Homo sapiens: one gene and its partner. The main gene of each other region encodes a partner of the protein of the gene in region 2 in a complex. Each region holds a gene or a part of one and is shown on either strand. Other genes may lie near its edges. The genes, in order: KLHL12 and PEF1.

What was found.
Region 1: the proteins of PEF1 (region 2) and KLHL12 are in contact, whole or in part, in a crystal structure (PDB 8RBH), measured with the Homo sapiens proteins. Residues at the interface, in NP_036524.1 of Homo sapiens: Gly15, Gln16, Ala17, Pro18, Gly19, Ala20, Pro21, Pro22; in NP_067646.1 of Homo sapiens: Phe289, Gln293, Arg320, Tyr321, Leu371, Glu417, Tyr434, Ile439, Phe481, His486, Cys511, Tyr512, Tyr528, Leu533, Cys558.

The regions. Positions count from the first base shown.
Region 1 is NC_000001.11:202,902,993-202,910,267, forward strand, and holds part of KLHL12 (kelch-like protein 12), read right to left. Parts: intron 6,133-7,275; coding exon 6,018-6,132; intron 1-6,017. UniProt on the Homo sapiens protein: Substrate-specific adapter of a BCR (BTB-CUL3-RBX1) E3 ubiquitin ligase complex that acts as a negative regulator of Wnt signaling pathway and ER-Golgi transport.
Region 2 is NC_000001.11:31,641,835-31,649,539, reverse strand, and holds the start of PEF1 (peflin), read left to right. Parts: upstream 1-4,663; 5' UTR 4,664-4,675; coding exon 4,676-4,699; exon of another isoform or gene 4,700-7,705. UniProt on the Homo sapiens protein: Calcium-binding protein that acts as an adapter that bridges unrelated proteins or stabilizes weak protein-protein complexes in response to calcium.

The DNA of each region.
Region 1 (7,275 bases), about 170 Mb from region 2:
AAACAAACAAACAAATGAAATAGATCACCATGGTGGCATACGCCTGTAGTCCCAGCTACTGAGGAGGCTGAGGTGGGAGGATTGCTTGAGCCCAGAAAGTGAAGTTTCAGTGAACCAAGATCATGCCACTGCACTCTAGCCTAGGAGCCAGAGTGAGACCTTGTCTCAAAAAAAAAAAAAAAAAAAAAAAAAATTACTTTGAGACATAAGGTGACTTTTTGAAGCTGTTACCAATTACACTCCCACCAACACTATAAAGGTGCCAACTCATTCTACTTTCTGAGGCACTGGATAGTTTTTAAATCTCTGACACTCTGGTAGGCAAAAAATTATGTTTAATTCTTTATAACTAATAAGACCCTATTATTAATTAGGTTGAACTCCCTCCCTTGTATCTAGTAGCCAGCTTTACTTGCCCTTCTGCGAACTGTACACTCAAATCTTTATTGTTTCTCTCATGCATTCTTGTTTTTTTTTTCTTTTTTGAGACAAGGTCTTGCTCTGCTGCCCAGGCTAGAGTGCACTGGTGCAATTATGGTTCACTGCAGCCTCAGCCTCGACCTCCTGGGCTCAAGCATCCTCCTAGCCTCCCACTTCAGCTTCCCTAGTAGCTGGGACCACTAATTTTTTTCTTTTCTTTTTTTTTTTGAAACGGCGTCTTGCTCTGTGGCCCAGGCTGGAGTGCAGTGGTGTGATCTTGGCTCACTGCAACCTCTGCCTCCTGGGCTAAAATGATTCTCCTGCCTCAACCTCCCCAATAGCTGGGATTACAGGCATGCGTCACCATGCCTGGCTAATTTTTATACTTTTAGTAGAGACAGGGTTTCATCCTGTTGGCCAGGCTGGTCTCGAATTCCTGGGCTCCATCGCCTGCCTCAGCCTCTCAAAGTGCTGGGATTACAGGTGTGAGCCACTGCTCTTGGCCCTGTCTCATGCATTCTTATGAGCTCTTTACACACAAATGGTTTTAACCCTTTAACCCTTTATCTATCTATCTATGTATCTATCTATCTATCTATCTATTTATCTATCTATCTATCTATGAGATGGAGTTTTGCTCTTGTTGCCCAGGCTGGAGTGCAATGGCACGATCTTGGTTCACCACAATCTCCACCTCCCAGGTTCAAGCAATTTCCCGAGTAGCTGGGATTACAGGCATGTGCCACCAAGCCCGGCTAATTTTGTATTTTTAGTAGAGACAGGATTTCTCCATGTTGGTCAGGCTGGTCTCAAACTCCCGATCTCAGGTGATCCACCTGCCTCAGCCTCCCAAAGCGCTGGGATTACAGGCGTAAGGCACCCTGCCAGGCCAACCCTTTAACCCTTTAAAGGGTTGTTCCAAACCTATGTTCCTAATTTATCATAATTTTGTATATGATTTTTTTATTTATTCAAATATGTTTTTATTCTTTGTCATTTCTTCCACTATTTTGTGCCTAGAAAGTCCTTCTTCCCCAGAAGAACTCCTAAGGTTTTAATGTTTTAACCCTAAGTTGGAGACCAATACTCAAACAATCTGACTCGTGTAAAAAAAAGCTAGTGAAAGAGTCAACCTGAAAGAAGCCTGTTTGTTCTCTGCCAATGATGGAGTACTTGTTAAGTGAGATTTTTATCTTTTTAATGAGAAAAGCTTGTCTAGGACATCTTACAAGAACAGTGTGAAAAAGCACATTTCTAAAACTGAAGAACCTGGCAGTGGCATGGTCATTATTTTTAGAAAGAGGGGAAGGGGAGTGTGTGTGTGCTGTGACACGTTGTTAGAGAAATAAGGCAGATGCAGGACTGCTAAAATAACAGGGTTCAGAGACTCACATTTCCATTTGCACTGATCTTTAGTTCAAAAAAGGAGACAGCCACAAATTAGAAAAGTAATTTCCATTATATCTTCTTTGAGACAGTAATGGGTAAGGTTAATAACTAAAAATCCCTTATTTGGCAGGCTATTTTAACTTGGCTGTCAATTTAATTTCCTTCTGCTGTATGCAGAAGAGTCATTATCCTGGTAGCTGGTTTAGCAGCCAATATGCATAGAGATGGGTAGAGGACATGATGGTAAGAACAATCTACCTGCTAAGGCACTGACAAAGCGATACTAAGAATCTAATTGGAAACTGCTTCAGCATTTCCCTTCTAGAACTTCTGAAAAATAACCTCAAGACTATGAAGATATATAGATTTATAGTTTAATCCCTTAAGGTCAGGGCAATAAGCAAGTTCTCTAACCAAGCAGGAGCCCCTTCTGCTGCCTGTTCAGAGATATGCAAGAAATGTACCTCCAAAGAATCTTCTGGGTTTACTGATTCACAAAAATTTTCATTAGCTTTTAGTTCAATTTAATAAGCAAATAATGAGTGCTATCATGCAAAAAGGAAACATTTTTCTGTGTTGGAAAGTACCTTAGTGACTGAACATTAACTCTGTTGATATAAAGAACTGGTAACCCAGAGAAGTTAAAGGACTTGTCCAAACAGCAAGTTACTAGAGTGAGTGTCGGAAATTGGAGTAAAAATCAAAGTAAGCAAAATGTCTTATCTCCTAGTGCCAGGTTCTTTCCACTACATCACTGGCTTTCATGGTATAGGTTGAGTAACCCTTATCTGAAATGCTTACGACAAGAAGCGCTACAGATTTCAGACACTTTTGGATTTTTGTAATATCTGCATTATTTCTTTGCACAACTATTTGCGCATCCCTAATTCAGAAACCCCAAATCCAAAATGCTTCAATGAGCATTTCCTTTGAGCATTATGTTGGCACTCAAAGTTTTAGATCTTGGAGCATTTTGAATTTCAAGATTTTCAGATTAGGGATACCCAACCCGATTTTTTTTTAGACAGAGTCTCACTCTGTCGCCCAGGCTGGAGTGCAGTGGCGTGATCTCAGCTTACTGCAGGCTCCATCTCCTGGGTTCACGCCATTCTCCTGCCTCAGCCTCCTGAGTAGCTTGAACTACAGGTGCCCGCCACCACACCTGGCTTTTTTTTTTTTTTTTTTTTTTTTGTATTTTTAGTAGATACGGGGTTTCACCGTGTTAGCCTGGATGGTCTCGATCTCCTGACCTCGTGATCCACCCGCCTCGGCCTCCCAAAGTGCTGGGATTACGGGCATGAGCCACCGCGCCCGGCCACCCAACCCAATTTTTAAAAATAATAATTATTTTTTAAAAAACAAAAGTAATGGCCAGGCGCGGTGGCTCATGCCCGTAATCCCAGCACTTTAGGAGGCTGAGGTGGGCGGATCACCTGACGTCAGGAGTCCGAGACCAGCCTGGCCAACGTGGTGAAACCCCGTCTCTACTAAAAAATACAAAAAATTAGCCAGGCGTGGTGGCACACACCTGTAATCCCAGCTACTTGGGAGGCTGAGGCAGGAGAATCGCTTGAACCCAGGAGACAGAGGTTGCAGTGAGCAAAGATTATGCCACTGCACTCCAGCCTGGGCAACAAGAGCAACGCTTCGTCTCAAAAAAAAAAAAAAAAAAAAAAAAGTTCCTACCCTGGGAGGAAAGGCAAAATTGGGAGTTTATTGTTTAATGGGTACAGAGTTTCAGTCTTGTTAAGACAAAAAGAGTTACAGAGATTGATTGTATAACAATGTATTTAACATGAGTCAACTGTACATGTAAAAATGGTTAAGATGGTAAATTTTATGCTAAATATATTTTATTTAATTAATTTATTTATTTTTGAGATGGAGTCTCACTCTGTCGCCCAGGCTGGAGTACAATGGTGCAATCTTGGCTCACTGCAACCTCCGCCTCCCGGGTTCAAGCGATTCTCCTGCCTCAGCCTCCAGAGTAGCTGGGATTACAGGTGTGCACCACCACACTCAGCTAATTTTTGTATTTTTAGTAGACATGGGGTTTCACCATGTTGGCCAGGCTGGTCTCGAACTACTGACCTCAAGTGATCTGCCCACCTTGGCCTCCCAAAGTGCTGGGATTACAGGTGTGAGACACCGTGCCCGGCCTGTTACATATATTTTACAAAAAAGAAAAAAAAGACTTCCATCCAGAAGGTATACAAATATTTTCCTATAATTTCTTCTAATATTCTCATAGTTTTTCACCATTCAGTCCTTCAATCTATCTTGTGTTGATATGTATCTGTGTATAAAGCATATGAAACACAGATCACATTTTGTCATCTTGCAGTAGTAGAAAATACCATCTACAATGCCCTATCTAAAAGTTCTCTTTTTAAAAAAATGCAGTATCTTTGAGTGGTAAGATTATGGATGATTTTTATTTATTTTTTGCTTCTCTGTATTTCTACAAGTTCTACATTGAACATGCAGTACTTATGCCATTAAAAAATATAGGAGAGGGAGCCAGGCATGGTGGCTCATGCCTGTAATCCCAGCACTTTGGGAGGCCAAGGTGGGTGGATCAATTGCAGCCAGGAGTTAGAGACCAGCCTGGTCAACATGGAGAAACCCTGTCTCTACCAAAAATACAAAAATTAGCCAGGGATGGTGGCAGTCGCCTGTTGTCCCAGCTACTCGGGAGTCTGAGGCACAAGAATTGCTTGAACCTGGGAGAGGTTGTAGTGAGCCAAGATTGCACCACTGCACTCCAGTCTGGGTGACAGAGCAAGACTCTGTCTTAAAAAAAAAAAAAAAAGGAAAAAAATTATATATATATATATGGGAGGCCTGTAATCCCAGCACTTTGGGAGGCCAAGGCAGGTGAACTGCTTGAGTCCAGGAGTTCAAGACCCAGCCTGGGCAACAAAGGAAGGCTCTGTCTCTACAAAAAAATATAAAAATTAGCCAGGCATGGTGGCACGTGCCTGCGGTCCCAGCTACTTGGGAGGCTGAGGTGGGAAGACTGCTTGAGTCCAGGAGGCTAAGGCTGCAGTGAACCGAGATCACGCCACTGCACTCCACCCTGGGCAACATAGTGAGACCTCATTTCTATTAAAAAAAATAAAATATAGCGGATAAATCACCATTCTACCTAAACCCATCAGTGAGCAGCTTAATTATCAACTAACACCTTAGCACGCATCATGAGTCCTCAGTCAGATAAAAGGAAACAATAAAACAAAATACCACCCCATACATATAGAGTAATTCATAACTTATAAAATGTTTTTATACACTATACACCTAGGCTTTTGGACAGTGAAGCAAAGAGAATAGGAAGTGGAAAGTATGGTGATATCTGAGTATTTAGTGTGTGCCAGCTATAGTGTTAGGTATCTTATATACATTATCTCATTCAATCCTCCCAACACTGAGATAAGACACTAACTCTCATCTTAGTGGTAGACATACAGGCTCAGATAAATTGATACCTTGCCCAACCAGTCATTGCTGGGGCTTGGATTTGAACCTAGGTCTATTTGCTAAGATAATAGCTAATACACATAGTTATTATGTGCCAAGAAGTGTTTTAAGGCTTTACATAAATAACTTTATTTACTCTTCATAACAATGTTACAGGCAGGTGCTACGATGATTCCATTTACAGATGAGGCAACTGAAGCACACAGAGGTTAAGGTTCCTGCCCAAGTTAATAAATCTAGTACGAGGTAAACTGGTACCTGCACCAACAGTAACTGCCAAAACCCATGTACTTTCTACCACACTGGGCTCCTTTTCTTCCTCTCTTCATTCCGGAATGGAAAAACCACATAAGGGGAAGTGAAGAGGTGGGTGGAAGCATATACTACTTACCTGCCATTATGTGGCACTAAAATTATCTCTAATTCACAGAATCTAAATAATATTGACAAAAAATTGTAACATATTATGTAATGCCTGACAATGTATAAAGTGCTTTTATATTTTATCTCATTTAATTTCCAAATAATTATGTGAAGTAGATAGAGAAGACATCCTTGATTTATAGGAAAGAAAGCTTAGAGTGGTAAAGTGACTTGTCTGAGATGATAGAAGAAAAGGTCTGAAACGAGGTGTCTGTACTTCTTATAGAGTATTATTTTCAACTATGTTGTCACCTGCAAGAAGTAGTTGAAAAGCATCCCCTCATTCTGCCGAGATACCAGCTTACCTAGGCGAGCCCTTGTCCTGGGTCCCTGCATCTGACTCCGAAGTTCAGGCCTCAGATGAAACTTCTTTGCTTCATCAACCAGATCCCTGCATTGTAAACTACAGCGGATGAAAGGCTGAAATATAGCAGACAGCAGAGTTAGGCACTGGGGATACCTGTAATACTATAAGAGTACAAAGAGCACATGCAAATAATTAACTTCTGACTACAGAAAACCAGTTTGCAAAGCCCTGTGATTCCAGGAGTATTGCTGGTAGTAACCATGCTCTCGGTTTCCAGAAATGATTTTTAAAATTTACTTGAAAAATAGATAACATACTAGATGGATCAAAAATCAAATGATATAAACAGATATGTTGAGCAGTATTTCCCATCTATCGCAGCGCTTACATTTAACTATTTTTACATAGTTTGGATGCCCTTCCAGGGATTATGCAAACACAAGTACATAATAACTAATAAGAATTTTAAGGGGAAAACCAAAAAGATTCTGTTATTTTCTGGGTGACAGGAAGAATCATATTTTGTCTGAAATATCTCCCCCAAGGTTCACAGTCCTGTTGTAATTACCATTGTCTATTTCTGACAGCTCTGTACTGGACATCTTTCATTTGCCTCCCAACTCACTCTGTACCTTTTTCCACTCTGCTCTCTGGCTCAGAAGACTGGCCTATATGAACTGTGTCAATAGGGCTTCCTATGCCTTCTAGCTTCTGGTTGGGATCAGCCCAACCAAAGGTCAAGGTTTCTCTCAAGGCAGTGACTCTACACGATTCTCTTTCCTTTAAGGTTCTAGTAACCACTCCTCAACCTTGTCCCTTCAGGCTTAGGGGTTGTTAATAGCTTATGTCCTAGATCCAGGTTATTTCACTGTCTTTTGTTGTTTCTCTGAACTTGCGCCTTTGTAAACAGCTTCTTTATTAAAAAAAACTCTTCTAAAATTGTCCTGTTTTGAGTATAGCATCTGTTTCCTGTTGGGACCCTAAAGGACACAGCTCTAATTAAATGGCACCTCTATTAACCTGACCCAAGAAGTTCTTAGTCGAACTGGAAAGGAAAACAAACAATAAATAGTAGTAAACACTTATGTACAAAGACTTGGTTTTAAAAGTTTTCACATAGTAACTTACTCAATGCTAACAAGAACCTATGAGGAACGTACTATTATCATCCCTGTTTTACACATAAGAAAGCTAAGGCACAAATATATTAAGACATATTAAGTTCACAGAGTAAGTGGTGAATTTGGGATTTCAGG
Region 2 (7,705 bases):
TGCAGTGGTGCGATCTTGGCTCACTCAACCTCCACCTCCAGGGTTCGAGTGATTCTCCTGCCTCAGCCTCCGGAGTAGCTGGGACTACAGGCACAAGCCACCATGCCCAGCTAATTTTTGTATTTTTAGTAGAGACAGAGTTTCACCATGTTGGTTAGGCTGGTCTTGAACTCCTGACCTCAGGTGATCTGCCTGCCTCGGCCTCCCAAAGTGCTGGGATTATAGATGTGAGCCACCGTGCCCGGCCATGGATATTTTTTTTTTTTTTTTTTTGGTGCTGGAGATCCCAAAGGACTAGATCTTTTTTGTGGCTGTCCTGAACAGTTTATGGGAATAGACGATGTCAACGTACTCTACTTATGATCCCATAATGGAAGGGGAGTGTGGCCAAATTGCCACGTCTGCTGTTCTCATTCCTCTGTTGCTTCTGTGGAAAGTTGCAAATCATCCTCTGATCCACAGCATCCAACTGGAATTTAAATTTCAGAACTGGATCTAGTTGGAATCAAAGAGAATTAATTCCATAATAATTAGGTGGGTGTTGGTATTCCTTCTCAGTAAGCCTTACAGAAGCTTGGTGCGAGCCAAGTGGCTCCTGGGAGGCTGTGTCTCTAGGGGAGGCAATATTTTCCAGTGGATGGGCTTTTCATTACCAAGCTCTGCCTCACCCCTAATGGGTCAACCGCAGGGCTTCCACGAACTCAGGAAAGTGCTCTGTGTTCTAAAAAAAGTCTGGAATCCATGCTTTCCCCTTGGGCTACAAGTGAAACAATAACAGGAACTTCTCCACCCACCTCTGTCTGCCTCAGGTAGATGAGGTTTTGGAAGTGAGTTGATTGTTTTTCAGTCTTAGGAAGATCCTGATCTCTCTTTTATCCAGCCCCCTCCAAAACAAACATACCTGGGCCTGTGTGGGTCCTCAGAGGCACAGCCCTGGCTGTTGGCTTTGGCACGTTCCTGACTCCCTAAGAGAAGATGTGGATGCTCCATCCACGAAATAGCACAGACCTCCCACAGATAGTTCTCCTAAGCCCTTTGCTGGGCATAGGGGAATGGGGGCAAATAATTCTCATAGGAGTTGGATTCTCATCACCTAGAACAGAGCCTGGCAAGAGGTGGGAACCCAATGGGATCATATGTTTGTGGAATAAATGAGTGTGTGTCACATGACTCCAGTTTGCAGGCCAGCTTGTCACTGTTCTCTCTCCAGGCAAATACCCACTTGACCTTCAACCTTCTTCCCTTCTGAAGTTTTGCAGCTCAATTCCACCAATATTTTTTGAACTGGGGGGTTAGGAAGGTAAAGAAGACACAATCTACTAACTATTAAATACTGAGTAGTTAAAAAAAATGCAGACCTGGGATCAAGTCCTACTTCTCCATTTATCTTTTTTTTTTTTTTTTTTTTTCCCCAGACAGAGTCTCTCTGTTGCCCAGGCTGGAGTGCAGTGGTGCAAACACAGCTCATTGCAGCCTTGACCTCCTGGGCTCAAGCAATCCTCCCACCTTGGCCTCTGGAGTGGCTGGGACTCCAGACACATGCCACCATGCCTGGCTAATTTTTTAAAACTATTTTTTGTAGCGATAGGGTCTCACTATGTTGTCCAGGCTGGTTTCGAACTCCTAGGCTTAAGCGGTCCTCCTCCCTGCCTCCCAAAGTGTTGGGATTATAGGCGCGAGTCACTGCGCCTGGGCTCCATTTATCTTTTTGATAACAGGAAGGTCACTTAACCTCTCTGAGCCTCAGCTCCTCATTATAAATGGGTAATAGTCTCTATCTCAAAAGACTGTGGTGAAAATTAAACAACACATAGTACTTAGCACAACGTCTGGCACCTAGTAAGCACTCAATACATGATAATAATAACTACTAACATTGAATTCATGCTAGGCACTATTCTAGGTGCTGAGGTTAGAGGACTACATAAGAAAATGACAATTCTACAATATACATGTAAACAAAGTGGACAATTCAACTAGTGACATGTATTATGAAAAAATAAGATAGATGATGGGAATGCTTGGGGGGCAGTGTCAAGAAACTCCCCCCACCCCAGGTGATATCTGAACTGAGACCTGGATGATAAGGAGAAGCCAACCAGTGAAAAGTCAAGGGAAGACTATCCCAGACAGAGGGAAAAGCTAGTCCAAAGACCTGGAGGCAGGAATGAGCAGGCAGTCAGAGACCAGCCAAAGCCAACATCCAGGAATGAGCTCTGTACATTCCAGGAATGGCACAACCAGGCCGGCATGGCTGGAATGAGGCAAGGGGGACAGCAACAGCAAGAAATGAGGCTGGAGATGCTGGTATGTGTGGCCATGAATGTCATTAGGATGAGTTTAGCTTTTATTATAAGAGTGATGGGAAGTCCCCAGGGAGTTGAAGCCAAGGAATAAGATAACCACTCTGGCTGCCTGTGGAGAAAATGAAGCGTGGGGAGAAGAGTGAGAGCAGGAACATTGGTCAGTCGGCTATTGTAGTGATCCAGGCACGGATGATAGTGTCTTGGACTACAGTGATAGTGCGAACAGGGAGAAAAGAGCAGATGTGTACATGTTTGAATTAGAGCAAATGGAGATGAGGGAGGTGAGGGAGTGTGTGGAGAAAAAAAGGACACACAGGAATGATCTTAGGTTTTTGGCCTGAGAGACTGGGTGGATTTTCTGAGATGGAGAGGAATGGGTTTTGGGGAAAACACCAAAAGAAAACTCTTATACAAGGCAGGCTGGAATACCACACAGTGACAGTACCAAGTGCAAAGGGGGAGTGGCAAGAGAGAGTGGCTAACTCTGGAGCTAAGGGGAATGTGGGAGGGTTAGGTGGAGAATGGAATTGGAACTGAGCCTTGCAGGACTGGAGTTGGGAGGGCTGCTGGTCCAGGTGAAAGGAGTGGTTTGAACCTAAGTTTGGGGCATGAGCAGGTATAATAAGCTCATTTTCAAATTTACACATTTGTTCCTGTCAGCTAAGAAAAGTGAAATTTAGAGAGGTTAAATAACTTGCCTAAATAAAATGTGGTAGATATACACTGTGGAATACTATGCAGCCATAAAAAAGGAACAAGATCATGTCCTTTGCAGGGACGTGGATGGAATTGGAAGCCATTATCCTCAGCAAACTAACAGAGAAACAGAAAACCAAACACCGCATGTTACCACTTATAAGTGGGAGCTGAATGAGGAGAGCACATACACCACTGGGGTCTGTCGGAGCGTAGAGGGAGGTGGGAAGAGGGAGAGCATCAGGAAGAATAGCTAATGGATGCTGGGCTTAACACTTGGGTGATGGGATGATGTGTGCGACAAACCACCATGGCACACATTTACCTATGTAACAAACCACATCCTGCTCATATACCCCTGATCTTAAAAGTTGGAAATTAAAAACAAACAAACAAAAAACCTGCCTAAGGTGATACAGTTAGAAAGTGATAAAACAAAGATCCTCCCTCCAAAGCAGAAGTGCTGAATGGTGGAACTGAGCACAGAAATACAGAGTAGCAGAAGGGGCCGTAAGATTGGAAAGTTGAGGCTGGGCCAGATTCTGAAGGGCCTGGAGTACCAGAATGAAGAGATTGGGCCTTATTTTGTAGGCGTGGATGAAGAGCATCCATTGTAGGCTGTGTAGTGGGCAAGTGGCATGATCAGCACTGTGATTTTGGAAAGTGCACTTGGTTAGATAGATGGACTAGACTGGATAACAGTTCGTAACATTCATTTATTCATTTATTTTAATAATCGTGTCAGTCGCTATACTAGGTACTGGAGTTATAATGACAAGCAAAAACAGACAAAACCCTAGCCCACATGAAAGAACTTGACAAAGAAATCAAATAAGCACACAAATAAGTGTAGAAACGGAACCACTGAGTGGCAAGTACATGGTGCTGAGATCACTCGGTCACCAGGATTTGACCTACGATGGGGACCGACCTAGACCTCCCTGCTGAGAACTGGACATCCATTGACCCCGGTTCTAGGCGACCCACTGTGAGCTAGGGCAAGGCAACTGCCTCTCTGCACCTCAGTTTCCCCATTTATGAAGAAAGAGGCACTAGATAATTCAATTTTCCTCCAACTCTAATGATCTGGGGTTTTTTTCTCCAAAGACCACAGATCTGTATCCCACTACAAGGGTACTAACTGGTACCCAGTACCTTGACATTAGAGGAGTAATTCCGCCATCGCCTCTCCCTACCGGGAAGAGTCGGTCGGTTCCCCGTTGTCAGGGCAACCGCCTGGCCACCGCCCCTCGTCTCCTTTCCCGCGGCTCATCTGCGGAAACTCAGGAGCTACTCCAGCAATTACGTCACTATCATGCGTCCCATTTGCCAGGTTATAACATGGCTACCGCAGCAACACCCCACCCAGGCTTCTCACTAAATTTCCCAACCTGACCACCTCTTCGGCCCACTCCACCTCAGGAAAAGGAGGAACATTAGCGCTGGTACAGCCGCCAAGACTTCCGGAAGCTCCATCAATCACTTAGCTCCCCTGGTCTCTCGGGTAGGCATCCGCCCACCGCCCCCATCGTCACTTCCGTCGGCCGACAGCACCCAAGATTGACAGGCGCGGACGTCCAATCAGATGCGGGCCCAGCCCCAAAGCCGAGACGAGGGGCGGGTTTGAGAGCGGAAAGCCCCACCCCTTGCCTGAGTGTGACGTCAGAATCACCATGGCCAGCTATCCTTACCGGCAGGTGAGTGTGTGAGGGGCCCGCGAATCCAGGTAGCGGCGGTGCCAGGCGCAGGCCCGACGTCCCCCTGCTCTTTCTCCCCGCTTTCTCCGCGCCCTTCCCACGATGGGTTCGCTTCAGCGAGGCCTTGCGCTGTAGAGAACCGAAAAGGGACCGTCGGTCGCGCCCTGCTCACGTCATGAAGGACCGCACATTCGCGAGGTCGTGTCGCGCCCCCTTGACGTCGCTCACTCGAGGATTTGGGGACCTTGGACCCCACAGGTCCAGGCTGGCGCTGGCCTGGGCTCCACAGCCTCCCAAGGCCCTCATGGGGGCCTTGGGCGGGGGCATCAGCCATGACCGGAGGTTTAGAGTTCTGGTTCCGCCGATCTCATTTGGGGCGTCGGATAAAAATCCAGGCTTCCGGACCCACCCCACACTGCATCAGAGTCATCAGGAAACTCTGGTTGTAGCAGGCGCCACAAGTGAGCTGGTTTGACCACTGACTTAGTTCAACACCGCCATTTCGCGTGTAGAAAAGTGAACCCCGAGAAGACACAGAACTTACCTGAAGTCACCAGGCAGTTAGGCAGCAGGGCCGAGGTCAGAACCCGGGCTATCTTCAGATGCCTCTTCCCCAGCGTATCTTGATTCAGTCAGGAATACCGCAGCAAGGTGATTCTGTGGCCAGAATTCTTTGTTGGGTGATAGTAGGGTGTTGAAGTGCACTTTGGTGTCAGAGGTAGGTTCATATCTTAGCTCTACCACCTAAATAGTTGTGAGCCCTTGAGCAAGCTGTTTTGCCTTTCTGAGTCCAAGTTTCCGCCTGTAAAATAGGGCCGAATAATAGGATCTGCCTCATAAAGCTGTTGTGGAGAGTCAGGAGGTGATGCTTACGAAGCGTTTGGTACATAGTGAGGTGTAACATGTGTTGCCCTTTAGCATTTTGATTTTTAGTAGACTTCTAAAAGGCCAGTGCCCGGAGGGTCCTCAAAATAGAGCCCTCATTTTACAGAGGAGGAAATGAAGCCCACAGAGGGCTGCGATCACACAGTTATTTAGGAGATGAAATCCATAAACGAAATGTGGGAAAACAAGATCAATTGGTATATTACACAGTGCTCAACTGAGTTTAGTCACAGGCCAAAAGATGTAACAGTCCTTCCAGGGAGTGCAGTCTTGTGCGGGTTACACAGTGTTTGGACCTCCATTATCCTAATCATGAAGTCCCTATCGGCATGCAGGTATTATTACCCCTAATTAACTGCTGAGGAGCAAACCCAAAGAGGTTAAGTGGCTTCCCAAAAGTCACACGTAGTAAGTGAGGGTGAGGCCATGACCAGAGCTTAGGACTTCTCTTATTGCATCCTTAGAGAGAGGTAGGAAAGAGAGAGGCCAGTGCGGGCTGGAGTTAGGAAGTGTAGCATAGCAGTTGCTTCCTAAAGTCCATTCCATTTGCTGAGTCTTGGGAGGTTTTAATAGATATTGTTAATATAGGAGGATTCTGTAGTTAACTAAAGTTTTGGAAATACTCTTAAGTATAGCTGAATAAGTTTATTGACCACAAGCTATTTCAGAATCCTTAATTTGCTAATGTACATTGTAAATCATCCAGAAAGGAATATAATATGCAGTATTTCTTAAACATATCTAACCATAGAAACTCCGCCTCCCGGCTTTCTTTTCAGATGTCTGGTCACTTTTTTGACTCTAGTATTTCTGAGGAACACAGGCTGAAAAAACATTCATAGCGCCTTGTTTCCCAGTGGCTGGTCTTCTGCCTCAGAATCAGCTGAGAGCTTGTTTAAGAAAGCACACTTTTGGGTCCCACTTCAGACCTGTTCTGTACCCAGGAATCTACATGCTAATAAGCATTAGGGACAATTGGTGTGCATCCTAAAAGCAGTGACAGGTTAGAGAGAACTGTGCTAGAATTCTAGCTGTATTACTTAATAGTTATATACCCCTGGACAAACTAAGGGCTCTGAGCCTCAGCTTCCTCACCTGTATAAAGGGAGAAATAATACCTGTGAAAAGGGCTAAAATGAGGTTAAAATGCAGGGAGCCTGGCGTGTTGCTAGTGCCTAGTACATGCCAGTGTCTGGTGGCAGCTCTTGCTGCCGTGACTGCTCTCATGATGCCATGCTGCCTGGGCTATTCCTGGAGTGAAATACTGAAAAGGAGCACAGAGAGAAGAGTCTGGAATAGAAAAAGAAATGTTGTTTTTTTTTCCTACCATACCCTTGTCCGCCTCCTGGTCTCAGGTGTTCTAAGAAAGGAAACGAGTTGTTTTAAAGCATCTCAGTCAGTGCTGCCTCCCCTCCACCCACTACATAGCTTTGGAGGATTCCAGCCTATTGTTAGGAGTCAGAATTCCTGTAATTTTCCACTGCTTCCAGTCCAGGGTACCCAAGCAGGGACTGGGTATTGGAGTAGTAAAATTCAAGCACCCTTTGGTCCTATGGGGGAACGAGCTTGGTGGATTTCAGTGCTTAAGAGCTTAGTTTTTGAGGCCAGAGAGAGTTGATTTCAAATCCCTGCTTTGTCACTCCCTTGCAGAAGTTTGTTGCAAAAGTCTGAGACTCAGTTTTCCCTTTTTTGAAAAAAATTTTTTATTTATTTGTTTATTTTTAAGACAGAGTCTTGCTCTGTCGCCCAGGCTGGAGTGCAATGGCACAATCTTGGCTCACTGCAACCTCCGTCTCCCGGGTTCAAGCAGTTCTCCTGCCTCAGCCTCCCAAGTAGCTGGAATTACAGGCGCACGCCACCACACCTGGCTAATTTTTTGTATTTTTAGTAGAGACGGGGTTTCGCCATGTTGGCCAGGCTGGTCTCAAACTCCTAACCTCAGGTGATCCACCTGCCTCAGCCTCCCACAGTGTTGGGATTACAGGCGTGAGCCACCACGCCTGGACTAGTTTTCCCTTCTTTAGAATGGGGTCATAATAGTATCTACCTCAGAATTACTCTAAAGATTAAATGAGAAAATCCACGTAAAGTGCTAGGTATGGTGTTGGGCATGTAGAATAC